Linked DNA regions of Homo sapiens: region 1 is linked to region 2. Evidence: fine-mapped expression QTL. A gene starts in region 2. The other region holds a variant in brackets. All regions are shown on one strand. Distances are between the middles of the regions.

Evidence for each region. PIP is the estimated chance that this variant, and not a neighbour inherited with it, causes the effect. A credible set is the group of variants that fine-mapping cannot tell apart.
Region 1: its variant is the best candidate, but not a certain one, in a credible set for the expression of USP7 in whole blood (TOPMed, PIP 0.64).

The regions. Positions count from the first base shown.
Region 1 is chr16:8,939,513-8,944,512 of GRCh38, forward strand. All of the region lies in intron 1 of USP7 (ubiquitin specific peptidase 7), which reads right to left. Among named protein-coding and RNA genes, the nearest start is that of USP7-AS1, 21 kb to the right of the region's middle. The variant T/C (reference allele first, on the strand shown) is at 3,083.
Region 2 is chr16:8,961,371-8,966,847 of GRCh38, forward strand. USP7 (ubiquitin specific peptidase 7) reads right to left here and starts at 2,536. Exons shown (of 31, transcript NM_003470.3): 1 at 1,837-2,536. The coding sequence starts at 1,915. USP7-AS1 (USP7 antisense RNA 1) reads left to right here and starts at 1,343. Exons shown (of 2, transcript NR_184341.1): 1 at 1,343-1,524; 2 at 5,383-5,477. RefSeq lists enhancers at 907-1,443, 4,140-4,763, 4,764-5,387, 5,388-5,477 and silencers at 2,639-2,998, 4,682-4,976.

The sequences.
Region 1 (5,000 bases), 22 kb before region 2:
TTTATTTCTACTTTTGAGTTCTGAAAGAAGTAAACACAAGCAAGCAAATGTTAGCTAGCAACAATGCAGACATAGATAAGGAGAAATCAACTGGCCTTCCCTGAGTGCTAACATGAAGGAAACCATGAATGTTTCACCTCCAGGCATTCTCAATGTAATGTTCATATGTACATATCATGTACATTGCTCGTGCACTTTTTCTCATGAAGGAAAACACATATACTATTCACATTACGTGGGTAAGTTTAATAACTCCAAAACATTGTCATGATTTATCAACCACTCCCCTAAAGAAGACTGTTTCTGGCCGAGCGCAGTGGCTCACGCCTGTAATCACAGCACTTTGGGAGGCCAAGGAGGGCAGATCACGAGGTCAGGAGATTGAAACCATCCTGGCTAACACGGTGAAACCCCGACTCTACTAAAAATACAAAAATTAGCCAAGCATGGTGGCACATGCCTGTAATCCAAGCTACTTGGGAGGCTGAGGCACAAGAATTGCTTGAACCAGGGAGGCGAAGGTTGTAGTGAGCTGAGATCATGCCACTGAACTCCAGCATGGGTGACACAGCAAGACTCTGTCTCCAAAAAAAAAAGGCTGTTTCCATCCAGGTTTTTCCTGTATTTTTGTGACTCCAAATGATGCTCTCACAAACAGCTCTGTCCTGTGGCTCCCATCCTGCTGCCTATCTACGCATCCTATAGCCAGGTCACCTGTCTAGGCATCCTACAGCCAGGTCATATACACATCTGGCCTCTGCAAGTAGCTAACCATGCTTTGTCCAATGGCAAATGTCAACACTGTTATCCAAGAACCAGAACACCGCCAAATGCTCTGGTGAGCTCCAGCACAGGACCAGCCTCCAGCACAGTGCTCAGGAGAACTCTTCGGCTTCTTGAACACAACGAGAGGCAGAAGGTGTACTAGGAATGTCCAAGAAGCTGGGCGCCACCATCAAGGCTGTTGATCAGAGTGGGAGGGCAGGGGTTACCTTGGGACCAGGCAACCCAGGGCGGGAGGTGGGGCAGTTACAGCAATGGCCCCTGCATCAGAAAGGGAGAGGTGGGAGCCTGTAAGCTCCCGAGGCATCCACAGAAACAGGGACGATGGTGGCAGCCAAAAAAGACGGAGTTACCACACTCCCTAAGAAGCTCCTGACCGCCATCTTCTAGACATTTCCAGGGAGTGGGAAAGATCAGAGGCTGTGGAGTGAGATCAATCCCCTCTGCGAGGCCTCTCCTAGGTGAAGCTCAAGCTGGCTTCAGGTAGGGCCCTGGAATATTAGCCGGACATGGTGGCGCACACCTGTAATCCAAGCTACTTGGGAGGCTGAGGCAGGAGAATCACTTATATACAGTGTCCAGAACCTGGAATATATACAGTCTCCAGAACCTGGAGGTAATCAAGTGGGGGTGAAGGTCATAATAGGATACAATAAAGTCAGGAATAGCAGGACAGAATTCTCTCTCCTCCCACTCCAGGACCCTTCTTCTCGTCCAGCACTCAGGGACTCAAGGTTCACCTTCCAGCCACTGATTGGAAAGTGGTAGGTGCTGGCCAGGCCACACTGCCCATGTTTGCCAAGGAGCTGCTGCCCAATTCACATGGGGCCCATGCCCCATGCCCATGAGGACCCCCCGCCCCACCACCAAATTACTTCCCAGCCCTCACGCCCTCTGTGCCTGACTGGATACCTGAAACCTCTTGGAAGGAGCCAATTCCAGAACATGAACCTAAGTGGAAAAATTAACTATGCTCAAACATAACCCTGAAAGCACCTTTCTAAGCTGCTACCATTAGCTAGGATTTCATGCATCCCCTAAAGGGTGGACATACCCTACATATCCTGCAGTCTGCGGTTAACAACTTTTTAACAAAGAAAACATCTTATTCTGTAGCCTAATACGTTACTTTTCCAGACAGGAAGGACCTGAGGGGTAAAGGCACGTATCTCCAGCCGCATTTCAGCAGAGCCCACCCTCTTCTCGCAGGTCAACCGACATGTCCAGTAACTTGTCCTAAGCCAAAACACATTTCGGCTTTTTTGTCCACGCACGATAGCAACATCAGAGTGTAAATAAGTTAGTCTGCCAATTCGCTTAGTATCTTCCTTCTAGTACCTTGTAGCCTTGCTTGGTACCAGGAAAGACAAAGACCAGGCCGTGTTGGTGTGGTGAGGAGTGAGGGGACGGGCAGAGCCAGGATCAGCTGTGTTGGGTGGTGCGTGCTGTGAAGTCAGGCCTGCCTCTCCCCAGGTGTGAGACCACCGGCCAGCCACTGACCCTTCCAAGCCTCCGTCTCTGACAGATGGGCTGGGCCCAGGGTTCGGCAGGGAACTGGGTGGACACGCCTCCTGGTCTCCTGGTGCTCACTAGGAAGTGGGAGGCAAGTCCCTTGGTGATCATTGCAATAGAGGGCAAACGCACACAGTGACAGCCACAGGGCTGGTTCATGTCCCTTAGTCATGAAGGAGGAGACAACTGGCAAGCACAGAGTGGCAAATTCTGTGGCAAGCACAGAGTGCAAGAAGCCTGCCGGCCAGAGATGGAAAAGTGCAGTCCAGGTAGAGCAAACCGCAACAGGAACAGGAACAGGGCAGTGGGAAGGGGAAGGTGGGCAGGGCCAAAGCTATGGAGGGCCTTGAAGGCCACGATAAGCATTCTTAACTTCACTCTAAAATGTTCCCTCCCAGCAGGTGCTCCACCCAATGAACAGGAAGCCATCCATGTCCTTGGGAGGTACTGGGACACTCGGAGTGACTGGGATGCCCAGTGGAGAGTCTGTCGGACCTGAGACAGCCCCAGCATGGGAATCCTGGTACCAGCCCTTGCCAAATATCAAGCAGTGGGGTCTGTCCCACCCTTATCACATGCTAGGGGTCTCCTGACAAGCTCCTTTGCTGTTCTGCAGCACTGTGAGGGTCTGACCACCTGCACCTCACCCCAGCCTGTCAAAGTAGATCCCTGTGTACTCTAAAACGGGGGCCCTCCTAAGTAACTCTGAATCCCTCTGGTCTTATTAACAATATTTGGCTTACGGCTTATTTATTTTTGAGACAGGGTCTCGCTCTGTTGGGCAGGC[T/C]GGAGTGCAGTGGTGCCACCATGGCTCACTGCAGCCATGACCTCCCAGGCTCAAGCAATCCTCCCACCTCAAGCTCTTGAGCAGCTGGGACTACAGGCGCACACCACCACACTCAGCTAGTTTCTGTATTTTTTTGTAGAGACTGGGTCTCACTATGTTGTCCAGGCTGGTCTTGAACTCCTGGCCTCAAGCAATCTCCCAGCTCGGCCTCCAAAAGTGTTGGGGTTACAGACATGAGCCACCACATCCAGCCACTTTGTGATTTTATACCCTCCAGTTATTTGGCCATATGCACCCTCATTAGGCTGGCTGGAAAGCCATTTCCAGGGGACAGTCCTGTCCTACTAAGCTAGGTTGCCTTCAGTTCTGTACCTTTTCAGGCACTGCGGGCCCTGAGGTCAGCCGACCACCTGGCTTTAAGGCAGTGGAGCCTGAGTGTTCAAAGTGGACCCACTTTGACGCTTTGCTCTATATGCTGAAATAATCCTGATGTAAATTAGCTATATGAAAACCAAGCCCCAAAGAAGGCCACATATAATATGTGATCCTTAAATAAAACTATTTGTTTGGAGCTTTCAGTTTAGCTTCATTATGTAAAAATCATCTGTTCCCTAGAGATCATCCTAACTACCAAAAGTGCCTGTCCAAACACTGATGATTGGTTTTAATGCTGTGTTGTGCACTGAGAGGGGTTTAATATACAGCACAAGTAAAGAGCTTATAATTACGCCTGTACTGCTTCTACATGTATAGTCTGCTCCGCAAAAGAAACAGGATTATCTGCTCAACTGTGCAGCACAATGCAAGTAGAAGTTGCAGCACGCACGGCCGGAACCGAGCTGCACAGATGCAGTTAGGGCAAGGGATGCCCCTACCTGGATGGAGATCTGTGACACACAAGAGCCAAAGGATCAACACCGAGAATGCAGGGCCCCAATGCCATGAGAAACACAAACGACTAACCAACAGGCTCCACCTCCCTCGTTAACGTGGGATACCACTCTTCCTCTGCTGGATTAACGGTGAAAAGCAATGGAGATGCCCACCAGTACTGAAGGTCTAGCATATGGGTAGAGTCGAATGGCTGGCGGGAACACACTTTTCTAGAGTCAACTGTCCTTCCCAAAGGCAATATGTATTAAAATCAAAATGTTGAATGTCCTTTCACTCATTTTGAAATGTTACCACAAAAACCCATTCCCCAAGAAAATGAGCATTCACGCTGGGGGATAAACACAAACAGTGCTTCGTGCACTGATGCACAACTTTAAACATAAGTTTAATTTTTCACAGGAAAACATTTTGGTTTTTAAAATTTCATTTCTCTATTAAATTTATTGTATTGCTTATTCTACAATAATTGGGTTTTAAAGCAAAACTATAAGGTGCGGGGGAGGCAGTATACAGGAGTTCAAGACCAGCCTGGGCAAACATAGGGAGACCCCCGTCTCTGAAATTAAAAACAAACAAAAAAGGATGAACTGGGACAATATCCATAATACATCAAGTATATAATGGTAGTTCCCTCTGAGGAACAGAAACTCTCCTTCTTGCCTTTTTGCTTGCATGTTTGAATGTTTCCGGGAATATGCATTACTCTTAAAACAAAAGCAAAAATACGCAGAGCAACAGAGGTGCAAAAAAAAAAAAGCACAGCCAAAATACTGGCTGAGGCTTGACACCCCCTTGGCAGCTGAGAGAGGGGGTGCAACAGCTGCCCGCCTGGAGTCAGGAGGAGGCCAGAGTCCTGGAACAAAGGAATTGCCTGGGCTATTTGTGGCCTGGAAGGTCCATTTACACCTTGGCAACTAAGTAGCAGCTTCCTCTCTTAAATGTCTGTTTTTCCCTAAAAATTATTTGAAAAGACAAGCCAGTTTGGGGACTGGGGATGAGGTCAGAGGTAGAAAGGAGATTTTTA
Region 2 (5,477 bases):
AATCCCAGCTACTTGGGAGGCTGAGGCAGGAAAATCGCTTGAACCCGGGAGACGGAGGTTGTAGTGACCCGAGATCGCGCCACTGCACTCCAGCCTGGGCAACAAGAGCAAAAATCCGTCTCAAAAAAAAAAAAGGGGGGGGGGGGCAAATACCTTGAAATTTGTGGACCTGGTCATTTTCCCAAAGATACAGGTCTGTAACACACATGCTCTGCAGTAATGTCTGTTTATTAATTCTCACTAGTGTCCAAAAACACCTGGAAAGCGGTAGGACAATGTCATGGGAAATCCATATGCTCGTGTTATTGGATATTTGTCTTGACCGGGTACCATTTGAAAAGGAAACTGAAAAGCAACCCTCTTTTATGTTTTAGATGGGCTGCAAAATACAGCACAAAAGGAATACACAAAATTCCCTCAGTAAAGTACTTCTTTTCAGCTATTTGGTTTAATCACACATAACAGGCGCTCTTAGTTGCTGCTTTGCTGGGGCCAAGTGAAACAGATAACCCAGTCCTTGGCGTGGACTCCGCTCTTCTGTCCCCCATTACTGCCATTGATAAATACCACTGGGGAGTGCCTACTGCAGAATCCCAGCCACTTTGTCATTTGCAACCTGGCCAGCCATTTTTTCAGTGACTATCCAATTACTGGAAGTAAGTTATTCTATTCAGAGGTGAACACCAGTCACGCTTAAGTGTTCCCACCAACCGGTGTGCAGCGCCCCACACTTGGAGCCACCGCACAGGACAAATACTGCTTTTCCTGAGCTCCCCTGGAGCTTCATTCATTGAGGCAACCCAAGATCCCTTGCTAAAAGCAAAACTAAAGCATTCCACGCCGTTTTCATTCAGGTGGCCTCCATTTGACTCCCGACAGCCTGAACTCGTCACGTAGGTAAGAAAACTTTTTAAAGACCATTTGGACTTTGCTTTGTTTCAGTGAAATGGGTCGTGAGAAAAAGTGCCTTCCAACGACCAACTCCCTAAATCCAACACCCTTCTCTTTACAGCGTCTTCACATCCAACCTTTACAACCAAGACTCTATACCTCAAACTACAGTGCCTTGGAAAATTACTGCCACATCGGCAGAAAACCGAGTTACCTTTCGAGTCAGGTTTGATTCTGATGCAGGCAGCCATGTGCGGCAGGGCTTTCGCACGGTTGCAAGCGCACACCTGGCCGGATGCTGGCTGCACCACACACTGCCAAGTACAAACTCCCCGAAAAACAGGTGGATTCGGAAACCAACAGCGCCCGGGTCAGAACTCTGGGCCAGTCCAAAACCTGACAACATCTGCGTTCCTTGCAGGTATTTTCGAACGTAAGCCCGACGCTAGGCAGTGCTGTTAGAAAGTGATTTGGAAGAGCGCTTCCGAGCCACGGCGCGCCCTCCGGGGGAGCGCACCGGAGCAGGTGCGGGCGAGCCCCGCGCCCGGGGAGGTCAGGAATTCCCCAGCCACACCAGATCCAACCGGACGCCCCAGAACGGGGACGGTCCCCGGAGTCCGCCTCCCAACCTGGGTGAGAAAACACCTCCGTCCCTCCGCTGCCTGAGCGCTCGAATTTACAACTCAGGGCGCTTTGTGCCGCGGAGGCCCGGCGGACGCGAGGTCGGGACAATGCACGGGGCCGGGGTCCCGGCGGCCGCCCCTCGCCCGCGGACCCGGCATGACTTTGCAGCCTCGCAGGCCGGGGCCGGGAGGCCAGGCCGAGGCCCGGCGGCCGCCCGGGGCCTGGTTAAAGATGGCGAGCCCCTCGCGTGGCTCCCGCGGCTCCCCCGGCCACAATGAAAGGCGCCCCCCGGCCCCGCCGCGGCCGGCCCTCGGGCCTCACCTTCCATCTCCATGTCCTCGGGCTCGCTCAACTGCTGCTCGCCCGCTTTCTGCTGCTGCTGCTGCTGCTGGTGGTTCATGTCGGCCGCGGCCTGGGCCTCGCCTGCGGCCGGGGGCCGGGGCTGCGAGCCCGGCGGGCGGGCGGCGGCGAGCCGGGGCGGCGGCGGCGGCGGCGGCGGCGGGGCGGCCTCCTCCTCCTCCTCCCGCGCGTCGTCGGCGACGGCGGCCCCGGGGCGGCCCGCGGCGGGCGGCGGCGGCGGCAGGGAGACGCGCACGTACTTGCTCGCGATTCGCCCAATCTCGGCGCCGAGGCGGGCGGGCGGCCGGCGGGCCGGGCCGGGCGGCCTCGTCGCTCGCTGCGGCCGCCGCCGCCGCCGCCGCGGGGCCCGCCTCCCGCCGCCGGGGCCGGGGCCGGGGCTGCGGGGCCGCGGGCCGGCCGGGGGCGGAGGGCGGCCGGTCGGGGGCCGCGGAGTCAGCCCCGCCTCGGGCCGGGCGCGGCGGACGGGAGGCCTGGCCGGCCGCGGCGGGCCTGCGGGCCCTGGGGCCGGCGGGAGCGGCGGAGCGGGCGGGCGACGGGCCGGCCGCGTTCCGAGAGCCGCGGCCTCCGCCTCCTCGGCGTCGTCGTCGGGGCTCCGGCAGCGGACGCGGCGCCCGGCAGCTCGGCTCGGCTCGCTCTCAAAATGGCGGCGGCGTGAAATGTCACATCCGCATGGGGGGCCGCGGAGCGAGCGAGCGAGCGAGGAGAGCAAGCGGGCGGGCGCCGAGCCGGAGGGCGGAGCGGGAGCGCAGGGCGGAGCACGGGAGGCGGAGCAGGGAGCGACCCGCCTGCCGCCGCCGCCGAGGCCCGCCTGCCCCGCAGCGCCGCGCCCCGGCACCGCCTGCGCCGCAGCCCCGCGGCGGACCCTCGGCGCTCCCTGCCCCCGGGCCCTGGGGGCCGAGGCGGGCCGCCCGGTGACTTAGCCCTGCGGAGGTGAACCGGAATCCTTCCCATCCTGGGGAGCCGGACACCCCGAAAGACCCAGGAGCGGCAATGAGGAGGGGCCCAGAAGCCACCCGGCAGCCGGGGTTCAGGTCCCAGCCTAGCGCGCCGGGGCGAGCGCTGGAGGTTGCCCGGGGACTGCTCGGGATAGGGCCCGGAAGGGAGCTTGGGGTCAGCGCCTAGAAGTTCCTGTTATTGTCGTTACTTACCCTTGCCCGCTGACGTGCACTTTTTCACCCAGTATCTACCGTGGAAGAATTTATTTTCTCACTGTCAGCCTAATCTGGCAAAGTTTGGCTCCTCAAGAGCAACCCCAGGCGGGGCGCAGCTGCTCACACCTGTGATCCCAGCACTTTGGGAGGCCGAGGTGGGAGAATCACTTGAGGCCAAGAGTAAGAGACCACCCTCTCTACAAAGGTTTTGGGTTTTGTTTTTATATTTTTGAAATGTATTTTTAATTAGCCGGGTGTTGTGCCTCCTGCCTGTAGTGACAGCTACTTGGGAGGCTGAGGCTGGAGGTTCGCTTGGGAGGTTGACTGAGGCTGCAGTGATCAAAGATGGCGCCACTGCACTCCAGCCTGGGCAACAGAATGAGACCCTGTCTCAACTAATAGTGATAATAAAATAATAATATAAAAATAAAACAAGCCCACTACCCTTCACATTTGGTATTAATTTACTTCCTTCCTATCAACCCAGTCTGGGATCATTCACCCGGGGCCTCCCTATTCCAGGAGACATTTGGTGAATATATCTCCTGTCCTGTCTCATTCAGTCATTGACAGACTGATGATTAGGGTCTCAACTTTTCCAGTTAATCAAGGCAGTGTGGGTCAATAAAAATGGAGCAAACCGATATACATTTCTACACATCTCAGGGGAGAATAGAATTTCACCCTAACAAGGCCAGAAGATTGTGGTACCTGTCTTCTCTCCATCTCCCTATACCCGCTTTCCCTGCATTTTTCTCCCATTTATGTACTGTTCATCTCCCTTCCCCCCGAAAGAATGTTTTGCTCACTGTTGTATCACAAATGCCTGGGATACACAGCAAGTGCTCAATAAAAATTGGTTGGGCCAGGTCGGCGCGGTGGCTCACACCTGTAATCCCAGCACTTTGGGAGGCCAAGGCGGGCGGATCACTTGAGGTCGGGAGTTTGAGACCAGCCTGACCAACATGGAGAAACCCCGTCTCTACTTAAAGTACAAAATTAGCCGGGCGTGGTGGCGCATGCCTGTAATCCCAGCTACTCAGGAGGCCGAGGCAGGAGAATCACTTGAACCCGGGAGGTGGAGGGTGCGGTGCGGTGAGCTGACATCGCGCCATTGCACTCTAGCCTAGGCAACGAGCGAAACTCTATCTCAAAAAAAAAAAAAAAATTGGTTGGGCCAGGCACGGTGGCTCACGCCTGTAATCTCAGCACGTTGGGAGGCCGAGGTGGGCGGATCACCTGAGGTCAGGAATTCGAGACTAGCCTGGCCAACATGGTGAAACCTCATGTCTACTAAAAATACATACAAAAAACTTAGCCGGGCATGGTGGCATACGCTGGTAATCCTAGCTACTCAGGAGGCTGAGGCAGGAGAATTGCTTGAAGCCAGGAGGTGGAGGCTGCAGTCAGCTAATCACACCCCTGCACTCCAGCCTGGGCAATAGAGGGAGATTCCATCTAAAATAAATAAATACATAAATAAATATTGGTTGAATGGGCCAGGCACAGTGGCTTACACCCCTTATGCCAGCACTTTGGGAGATTGAGGCGGGAGGATCAATCACTTGAGCCCAGGAGTTGGAGACCAGCCTGGGCAACATAGGGAAACCCGATCTCAATCAGCCAATCAATTAATCAATCATTAGTCAACTGGTTGAATGAACATATGATTCAAGCGTGACTGGATCCCCCTCACCAGCATTTCGTACGCTTGAAGGTTTTTCACCAGTATATTTCCTGCCAGACCACAGAGGTGAGCAGGGGAGAGCCCAGTCACTTCAAAGGAATCCCTTGGGTCACCCCCAGAATCTGAAGAAGAGGTATTGTTATTCACACAGATTCTCACAAATGCTAATCAACAGCGCTCAGATGCAAAAGAGTCCTTCTCTCTAGTATTCTGGAAGCTTGGAGGAGGGAAGAAAGTGCCTTTCTGGCAGAGGAAGAGGTGGCAGAAAGTTATGTATATGGCTGTCAGTTCACATTGGCCAACCTTATCCTCATCACTGAGTTCAAAACCAATCTGGCCGGGCACGGTGATTCACGCCTGTAATCCCAGCACTTTGGGAGGCTGAGGCGGGCGGATCATGAGGTCAGGAGTTCGAGACTAGCATGACCAACATGGTGAAACCACGTCTCTACTAGAAATACAAAAATTAGCCGGGCATGGTAGCGCGCCTGTAATCCCAGCTACTCAGGAGGCTGAAGCATGAGAATCGCTTGAACCTGGGAGGTGGAGGTTGCAGTGAACCGAGATTGCACCACTGCACTCCAGCCTGGGCTATAGAACGAGACTCTGTGTCAAAAAAAAACAAAAAACAAAAAACAAAAAACACACAATATCTCTCTCTCTTTCTAGAAGCACCTTGAGGAAGAAATTGTCTTGTCTACAGCTCTATCCTCAGTACAGCACCAAGCTTACAGTGGATGCTCAGTGAAGATTTGCCGATTTGC